Linked DNA regions of Homo sapiens. The protein of the gene in region 2 binds, or shares a complex with, the protein of the main gene of each other region. Each region holds a gene or a part of one and is shown on either strand. Other genes may lie near its edges.

Region 1 (8,287 bases), on a different chromosome or scaffold from region 2:
TGAGAATCTAATGCCCGATGATCTGAGGTGGAACAGTTTCATTCCCCAGTCCATGGAAAAATTGCCTTCTACGAAACTGGTCCCTGGTGCCAAAAAGGTTGGGGACCACTGAATATTTTAACAACTAGCCCAGCTCAGCAGCTGAGCACCAGCCTGGAGCAATTTCAGGCATTTCTCATCAGGTTACTTCCAGCAAGCTATCTCCCCTAAGGCCTTGGAGCATGTGAAATACACACACACACACACACACACACACACACACACACACACCCCTTTTAAGATGATTAATTCACTTCTTTCTTACACAGTCCCTTTTACAGCTATGCCCTGCTTGTGACTCCACCCTGAGACCTCATTTGAGCCTTGACATCAGCTTCCCCCCACCCCCTGCCTTCCTTCCTCTCCCTCAGCAATGTTTAATCTGCTTGCTAAACCAGGGAGAGGTGTGGGGCACGGAGATGCCAGGCAAGCCAGCAAACACGAAGAACAAATGGTTTGGCGTTTGCCTTATCAGGAAGTGTCCACAGGCTTCCAAGAACTGCAGAGGCTGTGGGAGGGCCAGGGACGGACATGTGGGGGAAGAGACAGGAATGTAGAATCCCAAGCTGGAAGAAGCCTCAGAATTCAGCTAGTGTGATCTCTCCACACACAGAATTTCTTTGCAAAGGCTGATGGAAAAGTTAAGAGTCAACAATAACAATAGTAATAATGAACTCCCACTTATGAGGACCTACGCTGGGCCATGACCTTATGTCACTTTCAGCCAGGAACTCTGCAAGGCTGGAATCAGCATCCCTTTCACAGATGAGGAAACAGCATTCCTTGCCCAAGGACTGAGCATGGAACTCAGAGGTCAGGGATCTATTCTGGGCCCTTCTAAATTCTAGCTGTAAAGACCTTGGGTATGTCCTTTCACCTGTGGGAGACTTAGTTTCCCTGTATTGCAAGGAGGGTCATGTCTCCTCTCCGATGCACACTTTTGCTGCAAAGGCTAAATGCAACGATGGCTTGGAAAAGAGTTTAGGGGCCAGGCGCAGTGGCTCACACCTGTAATCCCAGCACTTTGGGAGGCAGAGGCGGGCAGATCACTTGAAGTCAGGAGATCAAGACCAGGCTGGCCAAACATGGTGAAACCCCGTCTCTACTAAAAATACAAAAATTAGCCAGGCATGGTGGCATGCACCTGTAATCCCAGCTACTTGGGAGATTGAGGCCGGAGAATTGCTTGAACCCAGGAGGCAGAGGTTGCAGTGAGCTGACATCGTGCCACTGCACTCCAGCCTGGGCAACAGAGTGAGACTCCATCTCAAAAAAAAAAAAAAAAAGAGAGAGAGAGAGAGAGAGAGTTTAGGGGCCAGAAACGCACATAGTGGAGTGACGCTGATTGCTGATTAGGGAGAAGGTATGTATGAAGCACCTGGCAGTTGTTTAAGTGCAGCCATCGTGACCACACTGTGCAACTCTGCTCCCTATAGGTACTGCCAGCTAGGGGCTCGTGGTGGCTTTGGTTCATGGCCTCAGCCTGATTGTCCTTGGCTGCTCTCACGGTTCCCCCAGGCTCCCTTTCCCTGTTAAACATGAATCCCTTCTACTCCCCTCAGCAAAATAGCTCTTCCTGTGTCCCAGTGTCTCAGCCTCCAAACCTCTCTGGGTAGTATGCAGTGTTCTCAGGACACTTTCCAACTTCATTTTTGTGGATGCCCTAGAGAAGGTGCTCATTTTCCTGGCAGGGCAGAGGCTGAGCAAGCAGCCTGGAAGATATTCTGCTGGGGCATTTGGGGAATCAGGGGATGGTCTTTCTGGATGGTGACAGGGGTCCTCCCTCAGCTATGCCCCATGGGTAGGGGCTGTGTGATTGTGGACAAGTCATTGTCTTGCTTACCCTCAGATGCTTAGTCTATAAAAGGGAGTTGTTCCCCGGGTGCAGTGGCTCAAGCCTCTAATCCCAGCACTTTGAGAGGCTGAGGTGGGTGGATCGCTTGAGCCCAGGAGTTCAAGACCAGTGTGGGCAACATGGCGAAACCCCATCTCTACTAAACAAATACAAAAAATTAGCCGGACATGGTGGCACATGCCTGTAATCCCAACTACTCAGGAGGCTGAGGCACACGGACCGCTTGAACCCAGGAGGTGGAGGTTGCAGTGAGCTGGGATCACACCGCTGCACTCCAGACTGGGTGACAGAGTGAGACTCGGTCTCAAGATAAATAAATAAATAATAAATAAATAAAATGGGGTTTTTAATACCCACCTCACAGGGCACCGAGCAGATGAGATGATGCAATCTATGTGCTCCCCCTTCTGGGACCCTATTACAGGTCTGCTGGGATATTTTCTCCTCGTTAGGTGTGAGGGTTCAATTCCCTGCCCCAAGGAGGTGTCTTAAAAGAGAGATGCCCAAGAGGGAGAGACCCCAGATCATGGGTCCCAGGTGTGCCCCCTCCTCCACTCCCACCCTGAGCTCCATGACTCCAGGTTACTTACTGGATTTTCTTTGTGAAGTTCTTAGAAACAATGCCACCTTCTTGCTGTTTCTCTTCATGTTTGCCTGGAAGGAAGAAAAGTGTGGCGTGTCAGCATCTATGTTCCTTGGGCATCCTTCAGGACTGAGGCTTGGGTTCAAATCCTGGCCCTGGACCTGCCTTGCTGTGTGACTTAGGCCTACCCTAGAGACTCTAGTTATCTAAGCCTCAAGGACCTTGTCTGCCATACAGACCCACCTAAGTCCACTTCCAAGGCTGGCTATGAAGGTGAAATAAGATAATTGATGGAAAGGAGGCGTAGACCGTGGTTTGTAGTTAATTAAGGGTTAGTCTGAGGAAATCGCAGAAACTTCTGTGTTGTACCAAATCTTCCATGTGTTGTACCAAATCTTCCAAGTCTCCCACCTGACTCCTCTTCTCTAACCTGCCAGTAGAACCCTGGGTCTGACATCCCAGACTGGATGGCAGGCTTGAAGCGGGGTCACATGCTGAGGGCGACTCTGCCATGTAGCTTGCTTTATAGCTAACAGAGTGCTTTCCTAACTCTGAGCCCAGACGTCGTTCTCCCTTTGTTTCCAACATGGAAACTGAGGCTTGGTGATGGATCCAGGGTCGCCCAGCAGGTCCCTGGTGGCTCTGAGCTTTGAATCAGCTCTCTCTGAGTCTAGGCCAAGTTCTAGGTCCTGATGCCTCTCTGCTCTTGAATTTCTGTCTGTTCCAGCTCCCGATTAGCTCTTTAAGCCACATTATCTGTACCCAGTAGTGAAAGCACAGCCTGGAAAAAGAATGCTTCAATCTGCCAAAAACACCCAGCTTTTCCTAAGGGCACTGTGGATGTGAAATTCCACCAGACCTCTCGCCTCTTAACCTGTGGTAAGAGAGGGCTTCCCAACCCCCTCAGGGAGGAAAAAGATGAAATTACAAGAAGACTTGGGCCTAAACTGGTTTTGATCTTGTAATGTATATAGCACATTCTAATTCTCTCGGTCTCTCCTCATTCTTTTTTTCTTTAATAGAGAGAGTGTCTGTAGTTTCTCTTTAAACAAACAAGATTAGTACAACAGTGGGGCCATTCGGCTGTTACTTTTCACTCCTCATTTGTGGGGCCACCTTCTGGAGGCAAGAACCCTCATTTACACAGGGAGGTGCTTCTGAGGGGCCTTGAAATCTAGAATGTAAACAACTTTGTTGAATATAGCAGTCCAGATTTTTTTAAACTGACAACTTATAGCTAATTACTTTTAATTATTTCTTTGTTAATAGCTTTTTTTGTGCTTTAAGATAGTGCATGTGTATGTTAGAAAATGCAGAAAATAGGCCGGGCATAGTGGCTCACTCTTATAATGTCTGCACTTTGGGAGACTGAGACAGGAGGATGACTCGAGGCCAGGAGTTTGAGACCAGCCTGGACAACATAGAGAGGCACTGTTTCTAAAAATAATAATAATAATAATAATAGGCAGGGCGTGGTGACTTATGCCTGTAATCCCAGCACTTTGGGAGGCCGAGGCAGGTGGATCACGAGGTCAAGAGATCGAGACCTTCCTGGCCAACACGGTGAAACTCCGTCTCTACTAAAAATACAAAAATTAGCTGGACATGGTGGCACGTGCCTATAGTCCCAGCTACTTGGGAGGCTGAGGCAGGAGAATTGCTTGAACCCGGGAGGCAGAGGTTGCAGTGAGGCGAGATCGCGCCACTGCGCTCCAGCCCAGCAAAAGGGTGAGACTCTGTCTCAAAATAATAATAATAATTACTATTATTATTATTATCCAGGTGTGATGGTGTGTGCCTGTAGTCCTAGCTATTTGGGAGGCTGAGGTGGGAAGATTGCTTGAGCCCAGGAGTTTGAGGTTACAGTAAGCTATAATGCACCACTGCACTCCAGCCTGGGCAACAGAGTGAGATCTGGTCTCTAAATTTAAAAAAAACAACAATAACAAAAGAAAAAATTAAAAAAAAAAGCCATCAAAACTACTTATAATCCTGTCACCCCACGGAAGCTATTAATAATATCTTTTATATGTTCCGACTTTTCTATGTTTCTCAGAAATGTGTAAATGTTACATAGTATCCATGTATATCAGTATTCTATCAAATGGGATAGTTCTCTGCATTATGTTTGGAACTTATTTTTCTCTCTTGCTAACACATTATAATTACTTTTCCATATTACCAAATATTCTTTGACAACATAATTTTTAATGGCTGCAGTGTTCTATTGAGGAATACATAAGAGCTAATTTAACCAATCCCCTACTTTGGGGTGCTGAAGAGTTTCCAACGTTGGCGAGAACTTCGTGGCCCTGAACATTCTTGTAGCTAGAACCTCACACCAGGCCGCCCTATGACTTCTTTAGGATTAACTGAGGACTAATGCAACTTCCAGAATTTCTAAGGCTTAATCTATGTTCCTAAATTGCTCTCAGCAAAAGAAATTCATTTTAAACTGGAGTGTCTGGCTAACCAGAACATGCTATCCTGTGAATGTGTGGCCGCTTAAAGAGTCTACCTTGTGCTGCCAACTCCATGACCACCAACTGCCTGGCTCTAGCACAGGCCTGTGCCCAGAAGAGCACTGTCTGTTCTTTGGTACCCTCCCCACAGCCAGGGCGCCGGGAGACCTGCTTCCCCTGGGGACAGGCCAGTGCCTCTGACTCAGCCCTTTTGCATCCTAGAATCCTCCTGCATGCTGGTGTCCTGGGAATAAAAACTGATAATATAAATAATAATAGCAAGTAATATAGCGCTTCCTTGGTGTCAGCCACTGTTCTAAGCACCTTATCTGTATCAACTCCTTTAATTTTTGCAACAACCTTAAATAATAATAGTAAAATAATAATATAAGCAGGCATTTTCATTATTGTCATTTTGTAGATAGGAAACCCGAAGTTCAGAGAGGTTAAGTGCTGTATCCAAGGTCACACAGCTTGGAAGTGACTGGTGCAAAGATTCAAAAGCAGGCAGACAGGTTCTGGAATATTGGGTGTTGGACTTAAGTCTCTACTCTGACATTTCCTGGCACATCTCTAAGTTTCTCTGAGCCTCAGTTTATTCTTCTCTGAAATGGGAATGACGACACCTATCTTACCGGGTTACCGTAGGAAGCAAATGAAAGCGAGTCACAGAATGGCTTTGGAAGTTGTAAAAGTACCATGTGAAGGTAAACACTTGTGGTTTATTTTGATGTTTGGGGAAAAGACTGCTCCTCAGAAACTAGGTGCCTCTGTCTGCTCTGAAAATAGGGTATTGGGGTGAGGGAAGGGAGGATCTCTGAGCAGGGAAAGCTCCAAGATTTCCAAAAGAGGGGCCTGGAGGTGGGGTTAACCTCATTTAAAGAGAGTGTTGCTAGGAGGATCATCTTGAAACTCAATTTGCTTATCATTTGCCTACTTAGATTGGGGCAGCTTAAGGATTATGAGTGATTTTTAATTTCTTATTTTGCTTTCCTAACTACATATTTTATCATGAAGACATTTTATTTTTGTAAACTGAAAAAAGTAATTATTATGATTTTTAGAAATACATCCAGAGGCTAGGAGAAGTCAGAAACCCCTTGCAGACATGCTTTTTTCAACATGCCTCAGAGAAATGTAGGTGGAACACTATTGGCCCAGCTAAAGAAAGAAAGTGCTGTTTCCAGGGAAGGCAGAGTCCCTGGGACTAAGGAGAAGGGGTGGAAATAAGGCCTTGGGGCTTTCCAGTCTCTATCTTAGCCAGGGTCTGGCCCAGTGGCCCATGAAGGGAACATTTCTTGGCTGGTGGTTGCAGGATGGGGGTAGGGGAATCTGAGGCTTGCTGGAAATTGTCTAGTCCAGCATTTTCCAAACACTTCCTTGAATGAGACACTCATACGTGGTCAGATAAGATAGGGCTGCCTCTTAGAGATTCATAAACTACATTAGTGACTTAAAGGCTCTGATAAGTCCTGCAGTGAGAAGACCTGTTTATAATTTTGTTTTTACTGGCACCATACAAGACCTTGAACTCTCCTGCTCCTGTTTCTAGATGCCTAGTAACAGCTTGAAGTACATTGGTAAATTCTGATCTTGTCTACCTCTTCATAAGACCAACAGTAAAACTGAGGCTCCAGAGGCTGTGGGATTTGCTCAGGGCCACACCGCCAGAAGTAGATCCAGCCATCCTGACTCAGAACCAGCCAGAGAGGCCTGACATTGAATGTCAGACACTGCCAGGGAGAAGTGGGTAATCTCAGGTGAGTTACTTTCTCTGGGCCTCGGCTTCCTTATCTGTATAATGGGGTTAACAAACCTACCCACACTTCCTAGGAGGTCCTTGTGAGGAACCACTGAGCCACCACATGTAGGCCTTTAGCACGTGCTTGTGGAGGAACGGATTTGTCATTTTGTGGTATAGGGTGGGAAACTGGATCTGACTTCCAACTTCCCTTGAAAATTGCTTTTTATTTATTTTTATTTTTTATTTTTTTTGAGACAGAATTTCTTTCTTGTTGCCCAGGCTGGAATGCAGTGGCACGGTCTCAGCTCACTGCAACCTCCACCTCCCAGGTTCAAGCGATTCTCCTGCCTCAGACTCCTGAGTAGCTGGGATTACAGGCGCTCACCACCACACCCGGCTAATTTTTGTATTTTTAGTAGAACGGGGTTTCGCCATGTTGACCAGACTGGTCTCAGACTCCTGACCTTAAGCGATCCTCCCGCCTTGGCCTCCCAAAATGCTGGGATTACAGGCATGAGCCACCGCACCCGGCCCGAAAGTTGCTTCTTAAATAGAGCTCCTGATATCAATTTTATTTTTAAACCCCTTTTATGAAAGCCCTTGTATGGACTCTCAGGGAATTTGGATTTTGTCTAGCCGATGTCACTAATTGCATGTCTGAAAAGCTTTGTCTTTGTCTTATTTAAGCTCCCAATGACCCCATTTTACAGACGTGGAAATTGAGACTGCATGACTCACCCAAAGCCTCTGGATTAGTAAGATACTTAGCTGAGATCTCAACATGGAGCTGCCAGACCCCACCTGTTATGAAGCACCTACAAAAGAGGATGGTGAAAAACCCTCCAGGCTGGACAGAGGGTCTCCTAGAGGGACCACAGGGTGGAGTCGACCCTTGGACTTGGGCTAGAAGCATCTAAGACCCTAATTAAAACAAGGACAGAAGGAATGGTGATAATCGGTCTGTTTACAGAGTGCCAGGCAAGCACTATTATTAGCTCCATTTTATAGACACTCCGCATATATTATCATAGATAGTCTGCATATGTTTAATCTTTCCTACACCCTTACAGGACAGATATTATTATGGTCTCCATTCTGCAAATAGGAGAAATGAGGCTCAGAGGGATGAAGACTTTCTCGTCCACATCCGCCATGCTAGTGAACAGCAGTGCTGGGATCTGAACCCAGGTTTCAAAGAGCATCTATTATTCATTATTTATTGGGGCCTTCCTGGATGCCTGACACTATAACAATAACGACGACAATAATAATACTAATTCCTTGTGTTCCAGGTCATAGAATGTGAAAGGAAAATAAATCTTGGGGCCCCCAAATCACTAAGCTAAAGGGAAAAGTCAAGCTGGGAACTGTTTAGGGCCAACCTACCCCCCATTCTATTCAAAGGCAGCCCTCTGCTCACTGACATAGATGCATTATCTGTTTGTCTCCTTTGGAAAGGCTAATCAGAAACTCAAAAGAATGCGACCATTTGTCTCTCACCTACCTGTGACCTGGAAAACCCCTCCCTGCTTCAAGTTGTCCTGCATTTCTAGATCGAACCAATGTACTTCTTACATATATTGATTGATGTCTCATGTCTCTCT
Region 2 (9,109 bases):
GAGGAAGGTCTCCCTCTCATCCCAAGGAGGCCTGGCGGGAACAGCACTCCAGAACATCCGGCCTCTGTTTATTCAGGGAGGAGCCTGGAGGAGTGGCTGCACCAGCACTGAATGCCATCCTCTGCCAGGAAAGGGCCTGGACTGGTATGAACTTGCCAAATTAGTGGGAAGCCCAAGTGTGCAGAAAATCAAAATCCAGGAAGACTGCAGGTGGGGAGGCCCAGCTGCTTAGAATGGGGCTGGATGAAGCCCAGCATCTTTGCCGGGAGCCGTCCTGCTTCAGCAATGACAGAAGATACTTGCTTTCGCTCTGCCCCTCTGTGAAAACAGGGAGTTGTCCTAACTACTTCAGGAGAAGGCGGAAGATCAACTGCAAGACGGCAGTAGAAGACGAAATAAAATACAAAGGTCTAGTCTTTTCTTTCCATTTTCTTACTAACGTGATTAAATTTTAAACATCCTGAAGCTGAGTCCTCCCCCAAAAGAGAGGTCGTCTCTTGAGCTCCTCATGCTCAATGAACAGCTTTTTACTGATTGACAGCATTTCCTCTTGAAGATGATGATGCTCAGACGGGCCTCAGCTCAGCTCCTCCAAAATCGCCCTTTGTTTTCTGCAAGGGCCTTTTTCTCATTATGCATTGAGAAGCCAATTTCAAATACAAAATGATATTCAAGGATTTTCCACTACATTTAGTCTCCAGTAAGGTGTAACTCACACAAGTGCAACCTGATATTGTGTGTGTCAAAGCACAGGATTGAAAGCAATGAAGCACAAACAGCTCATGGGCTGAATGTTAGTTTTCTCCTTAAGTTTTGGTGCCATGCTGACAAGTCTCAAGTCATTCACTTGGTAAAGGGAACTCTTTTCTTGAGTTCATCAGTCCCATCATCAAAATCCAAGCAACCTCAGCACAGAGGTCAGTGACCCAATAACTTGGTGGCCAGGAGGGCACAAAAATAATCAAGTATTCTAGCCTGCATGCCTCAGTTTCCCAAAACACTCACTTCCAACTTCTGAAGAGACACACTGCCTCTTATTAGGACTTTCCTGACACTAGTTCTCTCCCTGTTGTTGGTACTAGCTGGATGACCTTCAAAGTCACACCTGAACTCTCTGGGTTTCAGAAAATAAAGAAGCCTAACATAAGAGATCTTCAAGGACATTTCAACTTTAAAATTTTGACCGTGAAATTTTCAAATAAATCTTCCCAGCATCAGACTTCTGATTTAGTAGTTCTTTGTATTTGCTGACAAGAATAATGGTAACTAAACCTGCTTTTTTTCTTTTAATAAGGTTTATGAAATCACAGCCTAACCCATGCACCAGGTGGGTACAGGAAGATCTCAACTTGCTGGGTAAGTTTCATGCTGAGAACAAAGTGCTGGGAATGTTTATGTTCAAACTTGATCTTCACTCACAACAAAGGCTGCCAACAGATACCACTATCCCTATGTCTACAGGAAGAAGGCTTCAAAATAATAGTTGTAAACCACACTAAAGATCATGTACATCCACGCAGACTCCTAAGAAAGGTGGTTTGAAATGAGTGTCAGTTTCACCCAAAAATGGGTGGAACAGACACACAAAAAGGTATATGTAACTGTGCCCATCCCAGCTAATTACAGCCTCTTGTACTAATTTTCAAGAATAAATATACAACTAATCTCTCGTAAATGTAAACTGCTGCCTGTACACGGTCTCACTGCTGGGCACCGGAGTTTTATCAATATTGTTAAAACAAAAAGTGCATAAAGATGAAGGGAAATAATACAGGTCTTTCTTCTAAAACAATGGGTTACACAGCAGTTTTAATTTGGTGAGTTTTTAAATCTTCAAAATAATTTACCAGCTCTTTGCTGCTTTTATCTTGCCCAGACGGCGTTAACAATTCAGCTTTAAGTATAACATATTTATTTTAAAAACTTTTTATCCTGAAAGCTCAAATTTATAAAAAATTGAAAGAATAGTATAACTAACTCTGATTTTTGAAAATTAACACACTCATTCCAAATTTACATTTTCAAATTTCATGCTCTTGGGGATTAAGAAGTATATATCCTTGCATGTATGTAAATGAGACATACTTCTGCTGTATTCACAAGAGTATCATTAGTCAGTTATTTGTGTACTGGTAACAAATCCTAAGTATTTTAATACCATAACAAGGCAGGAAGCGAATGCCATTATAAATATACACGTATCATTCTCTTTCTCTCCAGTGTGAGGCAATGTGGTAAGGCAATGGCCAACTGTAAGACAGTCTCAGATCTCTAGTCTAGATCTCTAGAAACTGCTGGGGAGAAGCACACCCTGTTTTTTATTTTACAAATCATACTAGGATACGTTCATATTGAAAGCACTTTCAAACAATAATACAATTTTAATTTAAAATACACACACACACATATATATATGAATGTTTTGACACCAGCCTCCAGAGTCATTGGGTGCCTAACATGGGACAGTAGCCAAGATACCCCTCAACCAAGTTGGAGAACTTGAGCGGTAAAATTCCCCCCAAAACCACCATCCAAGCTTGCGAGTGTCCCCCTCGAGTCCGCGGTCAGCAGGGTGCGCCGCGGGTCCCGGGCCCGGAGGCCGAGCGGGCAGCAGGGGCCACGGTGGGCCGGGGCCTCCGGAGCTGACCAGGCCGGCCGCCCCTCTCCCAGCCCTAGAGCGCGAGGCCAGCGCTGGACACCCGGCCTTCCGCCCTGGAGTCGAGCCGTGGACGGCACCGGAGCCACTGCGGGGTCGCTTCCCGGGCCACCGAATCCCGGGGCCTCCTTTCGCCCCGACGCCTGTCAAGGGCGGGTCCGGAGCGGGGACTCGTCCGGGCGCAGCGGGAGTGTGTGGCGGGGCGCGGAGCCGGTGTCCGCCCGCGAGGGGCCTTCGCCGACCCCCGGGCCCCGCCGCCTCGCGTCCCCCCGGCCCAGCCCACTCCCCGCCGCCTGCCGTCGAGGTGGCGCCACCGACCAGGGCGGGCCGCGGGCCCGGCTCACCTTGGGGCCCTCAGAGGGCACGCGCGGGTCGTTCCACGTAGTGGTGCGGCTGTTGTGGTCCACGAAGAAGGGCCAGCCGGTCTGCGGGTCGATCTTGATCTCCCATCCGGGGGGCAAAGGGTCGCGGTCACCGTTGCCGGACGCCACCTGCATCATGGGCGAGTGGGTGGCGGCGCTCATGCTGGGTTGGGGTCTGCCCGCTGGGGCGCGGGTGCGGGGCGCTGGCTCCGGGCGCCGAGTCTCTGGCCGGGCCGCCGCCGTGGGCCCCTCTCCGCCGCCGACGTGTCCGGGAAGCCGGCGCCGGGCACCTTTATGAATTAAAGGCGGGGGTGACGTGGCCAGAGAGGGGTGGAAGTGTCTGGAAATAGCCTCCTCGCTGCCAGAGGGGAAGGAGGAGATAAAGGGAGGTAGCAACTGGCCGGCTAGAAACTTCTGGTCCAGTCCAGAGAAGTTGGCCGCGGCCCGGGGTTGGATGCGGAGCTCCGCCCTGAGTCATCGGCTATAATCGCGGCGGGCGGGGCAGAGGAGCGGGGGCGGGGCCTCGGCCCGCTCGCCCCTCCCCCACCTCCTCCCGCCCCTCCCCCTTCCGACTCGTGCGCGTGCCCGGGCCGGAGTCGCCGCGGGCGGGCGCGGGCGCGGCTTCGGGGTCCGCCTGCGGGTGGGAAGCCGGACGAGCTGGACTGGGGCCGTCCTCCGTGCGCCCCGGGCGGGTTTCGGCTTTCATAGTCGCTCTCTCCCTCTCCTTTGCGCCGAGTGAGTGTTCCCGGGGCCGGAGCCCGTGCTCCCCGTGCCTGCCGCCCGTCCTTCCTGTACAAACAAAACCATCTCGCCCACCTCCACCCCCTCCCCCATATATGATAGCCGAGGACCCTGAGGGCTGTCCGGGAGGAGCGCGGGGACTCTCATCTGACACCGGAAGGAAGCCAGGGAGAAAATGGAAGTCAGTGCAAACTCACCTGCCTTCCTTTGGAAACTTCAAGAAAAAAAGAGATTGTATCAACTGATGGCTTTTAGTCTCCTAGACTAAAAAGAAAGTTTCGTTGCAGCTTTAAAGATAAATCACATTTTCTTGGGTCTGGATCTTTTTTATGGTAGAGATTGGTTCTTGCTATCTTATATCTTGACCCTGATTTGGGAAGTAAAGACCGAATAACCATGACATTTTTTGTTTGGTTTATTCAATTGCACTTGTAACCTGTCAAAGGAGAAAATTACAACACATTTAAAGATCTTTTTTGTTGTTGTTGTTGTTGATTTTCATTTTTTAACTTTTATTGTTAAAGATCTTATTTGTGATTCTAGAAATTGGGCAACATCTCCATTAAATTAGAATAAGTGCTCCCATGAGCTGAGCAGAAGAGGTTGGTTTTATAGACAGAGAAGGGCTGAAGAAAGCAGAAACAAAGAACCAAGACTGGATTGGTTGTTTCAAAATTACTTTCCTTGTAAGGAGGGGACAGAGAGACAGAATCATAGAAAAATAACTGATGAGGGCTTGCCACCATGGCTCATGCCTATAATGCCAGCACTTTGGAAAGTCAAGACTGGAGGACCTCTTGAGTCCAGGAGTTTGAGACCAGCCTGGACAACACAGTAAGACCCCCATCTCTGCATAAACAAAAAATAAGCCAGGTGCAGTGGCTTATGCCTGTAGTCCCAGCTACTCAGGAGGCTGAGGTGGGAGGCTCATTTGAGCCCAGGAGTTTGAAGCTGCCATGAGCTATGATTTTGCTCTTCATGCCAACCTAAGCGACAGAGCAAGACCCTATCTCTTTAAAAGAAAGAGAGAGAAAGAAAGAGAGAAATGATTGAGAGAAATGTAACATCAGGTTACATACTTCAGATTACTGTACAGTTGACCCTTAACATGGGTTTGAATTGAGCAGGTCCACTTGTACATGGATTTTTTTTCAATAAAAGTTACACCGATGTGCTTGCCTCTCCAGTCTCCCCTTCCACCTCCTCCACCTCTTCTGTCTCTGCCACCCCTTGACAGGAGAATCAACCCTTCCTCTTCCTTCCCCTCCTCAGCCTCCACGTGAAGATAATGAGGATGATGACGTTTATGATGATCACGTCCACTAAATGAGTAGTAAGTGTACTACTCTTCCTTATGTAAATGTAAAATCTCTTCCTTATGATTTTCTTAACATGTTCTTTTCTCTAGCTTACTTTATTGCACGAATACATATAATACATATACAACATATGTGTTAATTGACTGTTCATGTTATTGGCAAGGCTTTCCGTCAAGAGTAGGCTATTGGTAGTTTTGGGAGATTCAAAGTATGCAGGGGCGGGGCATGGTGGCTCACGCCTGTAATCCCAGCACTTTGGGAGGCCAAGCGGCGGATCACTTGAGATCAGAAATTTGAGACCAGCCTGGCCAACATGGTGAAACCCCAACTCTACTAAAAATACAAAAATTAGCTGGACGTGTGGCACATGCCTGTAATCCAGCTACTCGGGAGGCCGAGGCAGAACTGCTTGAACCCAGGAGGCGGAGGTTGCAGTGAGCCAAGATCATGCCACTGCACTCCAGCCTGGGCGACAGAGCCAGACTCCAGTTCAAAAACAAACAAACAAAAAAGTATGCAGGGATTTTCTTTTTTCCTTTCTTTTCTTATTTTATTTATTTTATTTATTTATTTTTTTGAGACAGGTTCTTGCTCTCTCTCCCAGACTGGAGTGCAGTGGGGCAATCTCAGCTCACTGTAACCTCTGCCTCCTGGGTTCAAGCGATTGTCCTGCCTCAGCCTCTTGAGTAGCTGGGATTACAGGTGTGCACCACCATGCCTGGCTAATTTTTGTATTTTTAGTAGAGACAGGGTTTTGCCATGTTGGCCAGGCTGGTCTCAAACTCCTGGTCTCAAGTGATCCACTCGTCTCCGTCTCCCAAAGTGCTGGGATTACAAGCATGAGCCACCTCGCCCAGCTTTGCAGGGATTTTCGACTGCACGGAGTTGGTGCCCCCAGCCACCTCCTGTCACTCCCCAACCCTCACCCCTCATTCGAAAGTAGCCTGTTTGGGAAATTAGACTATCACCTCTCCTGATTTCTCAGAAAGTCAGATAACAACTTGGTTTTGGTTTGGTGATGTGGAACTTTAGCATGAGTGACTCCTTTCTGATTTTTCGTCGGGTTTGTTAAGGCCAAATGCAGGAGCTTAGTCCAAAACAGTGACCTCTTATAACTTTTATTTAACAAACGTCAATGAGCACCCCAATTCCCCTGGGAAAGAGAGACTGTGTTCCAGAAAGAGAGAATGTTTGGGAGGTGACATTTTAGATCTTTAGACATACTGACTCATTCCCTTCCCCAGAAACGCTTTGAACTAATATTGGGCCTAGTTTTCAATTCGGAATCAGAGAATATCCTCGAACCCCAGTCAATACCTCTGCCCCTTCCTGCCCTCAGCTTACTCCTTCTGGAGAAAATGCCAGAGAGGCCTGCCTATCATTTCCAATGGAATGATTCTCACTTGTAAAAGTATGCTTATCCGCTTTGGAGTCCAGTAACTCCAGTGATGATCAGGCCCCAGGGACTGATGCAGGTCACCAAACATGTTAGAGACAGGTGTATAAACCCGAATGTCAGTGCACTAGTTTCCCATAGGAAATATTACTGTTGAAGGAACTAGACCCCCAAATTCACTAGTCAGTGTCTGCCTTATGCTTCCTTATGTCTGCAGCCCTGAACCCAGAGTCCATATTCAATAAATGTTGATGTTTATCGAAGATTGAATCCAGAGTGAAATTTTATTTCTATCTTCTTCCTTGCTCAATTTGCTTTCCACTACAGTTTAAGTAACTACAGTTTAAATAAACACAGAGGCTGGGTGTGGTGGTTCATGCCTGTAATCCCAGCACTTTGGGAGGCAGAGGTGGGGGGGATCACTTGAGGTCAGGAGTTTGAGACCAGCCTGGCCAACATAGTGAAACCCCGTCTCTACTAAAAATACAAAAATTAGTCGGGCATGATGGTGGGTGCCTGTAATCCCAGGTACTTGGGAGGCTGAGGCAGGAGAATCGCTGGAACCCGGGGAGCGGAGTTTGCAGTGAGCTGAGATCACGCCACTGCACTTCAGCCTGCGCAACAGAGGAAGACTCTGTCTCAATAAACAAACAAATACTGAAAGTGGTGTTGGCCATTTTTCCCCTGAAAGAAGCAGCAGGGAGGAAGCAGGTTACTCTGGGATTAACATAGCTGCTTCTGACAGTTGCTCTGGAGGCTAAAGCAGCTCCATCCTGGATGCTCATCTGCCATGTTCGTTTCTGATGAACCCGTTCCAGGAATGCCTCTAAGATTTCTATTTTCACATACTTACCCTTCGGTCAAAATAACGTTGGTGTTACTGTAAACACATACTTACTATAAATCCTGCCTGTGGCGAATTCCCTGTGGTATACAAGCCCTGGGACTTCAGGGTAACAGTGCAGGGACCCGCCATCTTGTCTTGCAGCCATCCAGGACATGGCTTGTGTTTGTAAGTCCCTATTAAGTGTTTCTCTCTGAGAAACTGGATTTGTCCACCTCTTTCTTCAGCTTCTCAGTTTCCTCAGCCTTTGAGGGTAGGTGTGCATAGACCTGCTCACCGCAGAAGAGTTATCCTCCGCTAGGGACTTCCGCAGGGTTTGTCTAAAACAGAGACACAAGTCTTGGAGAGCTGGCTGGAAGAAGCTGCTTTGAGCCACGTTGAATACTGAGCATCATGTCTGTCCTCGGTGGCTTTTTCTTTTCTCCAGGCCCTCAGACACTCCCTCTTTAGGCCTCCTGGAGTTCATCTGCCCAGATCAGAAGCTTAAGCATAACCCTAAATTTCTTTTGCCCCTCACCATTTAATTATCCTTTTTTTTTGAGACTTGCTCTGTCACCCAGGCTGGAGTGCAGTGGCGTGATCTCGGCTCACTGCAACTTCCGCCTCCCTGGCTCAGGCGATTCTCCTGCCTCAGCCTACCGAGTAGCTGGGATTATAGGCACCCGCCACCATGCCCAGCTAATTTTTGTATTTTTAGTAGAGACAGGGTTTCACCATGTTGGCCAGGCTGGTCTTGAACTCTTGACCTCAGGTGATCCTCCTGCCTTGGCCTCCCAAAATGCTGAGATTACAGATGTGAGCCACCGTGCCTGGCCCATTTAATTATCCTTAAATCTGTGGATTCCACTTCCTAGATATTCCTTGATTGTGAACTCCTGTCTGTCTTTAGTGCCACCAACCCGTCCAGGTTACCTTTGCCTGTCATCTGGATCTTGGCACGGCCTCCTGATGGATCTCCCAGACTCTAATCTTTGTGTGTGTGTGTGTGTATGTGTGTATGTGTGTGTGTCTGTGTGTGTGCGTAAGCAGTTGGTCACGTAAACCAGCCTCTAATCTTGTTCATCTCCAATTCGTTGCCCACATGGTAGCCAGAGCAATCTTTCAAGCACAAAACAGGCCTTGCCCCTTCTCTGCCTAGAATTCTTTAATGCCTCTCTGTTGACTCCACACTCCTTGGCTTGGTGTACACAAGACCTTCCTCCCCTCAGCCTGGTGTGCACTCTGGCTGGCCTTGCTGCACCATATCATGCAGGCACTGACACAGCCTGCCCTTGCCTCTGCCCACCCTGCTTCCTCCACCTGGAGAGCCCTTCTCTCCAACACCCAATGGCCTCCCGCTCTCTTTGCCTGGCTGACCCCCCTTCATCATCAGGTATTACCTGTGGCATCTCTCTTCTTCATCCTCCTGGTCTGAGTCATGTGTCCCTTCTATTATGGCAAAAACTGTGATTACTTTTGCACCAACCCAATAGGTGCTCTGCAGAAAGTAAAAAGTTTCCTCTTCGAAGCTTCCCTTCTTGTTAAAGAATAAATCATAAATGTTAAAAATAATAGTTTCTTTTAAAGACTAAACTTCCTTCAAGCCTCCTTGCTTTGTGCTAGTAACTCTTTGTTAAGCCTTGTCCTATGTAGCTGTTAGATATAAAAGAATAAGTACAGTTGGCCAGGCACGGTGGCTCACACCTGTAATCCTAGCACTTTGGGAGGCTGAGGCAGGTGGATCATGAGGTCAGAAGATCGAGACCATCCTGGCTAACACAGTGAAACCCCGTCTCTACTAAAAAAATACAA

The links.
Region 1: BAG3 (region 2) and HSPB8 share a complex: the UniProt entries of both Homo sapiens proteins name them as parts of the chaperone-assisted selective autophagy (CASA) complex.

The regions. Positions count from the first base shown.
Region 1 is NC_000012.12:119,181,286-119,189,572, reverse strand, and holds part of HSPB8 (heat shock protein beta-8), read right to left. Parts: exon of another isoform or gene 7,371-8,287; intron 6,700-7,370; exon of another isoform or gene 6,290-6,699; intron 5,647-6,289; exon of another isoform or gene 5,478-5,646; intron 2,549-5,477; coding exon 2,485-2,548; intron 1-2,484. UniProt on the Homo sapiens protein: Involved in the chaperone-assisted selective autophagy (CASA), a crucial process for protein quality control, particularly in mechanical strained cells and tissues such as muscle. Displays temperature-dependent chaperone activity.
Region 2 is NC_000010.11:119,645,747-119,654,855, reverse strand, and holds the start of BAG3 (BAG family molecular chaperone regulator 3), read right to left. Parts: upstream 3,477-9,109; 5' UTR 3,181-3,476; coding exon 3,001-3,180; intron 1-3,000. UniProt on the Homo sapiens protein: Co-chaperone and adapter protein that connects different classes of molecular chaperones including heat shock proteins 70 (HSP70s), e.g. HSPA1A/HSP70 or HSPA8/HSC70, and small heat shock proteins (sHSPs), e.g. HSPB8.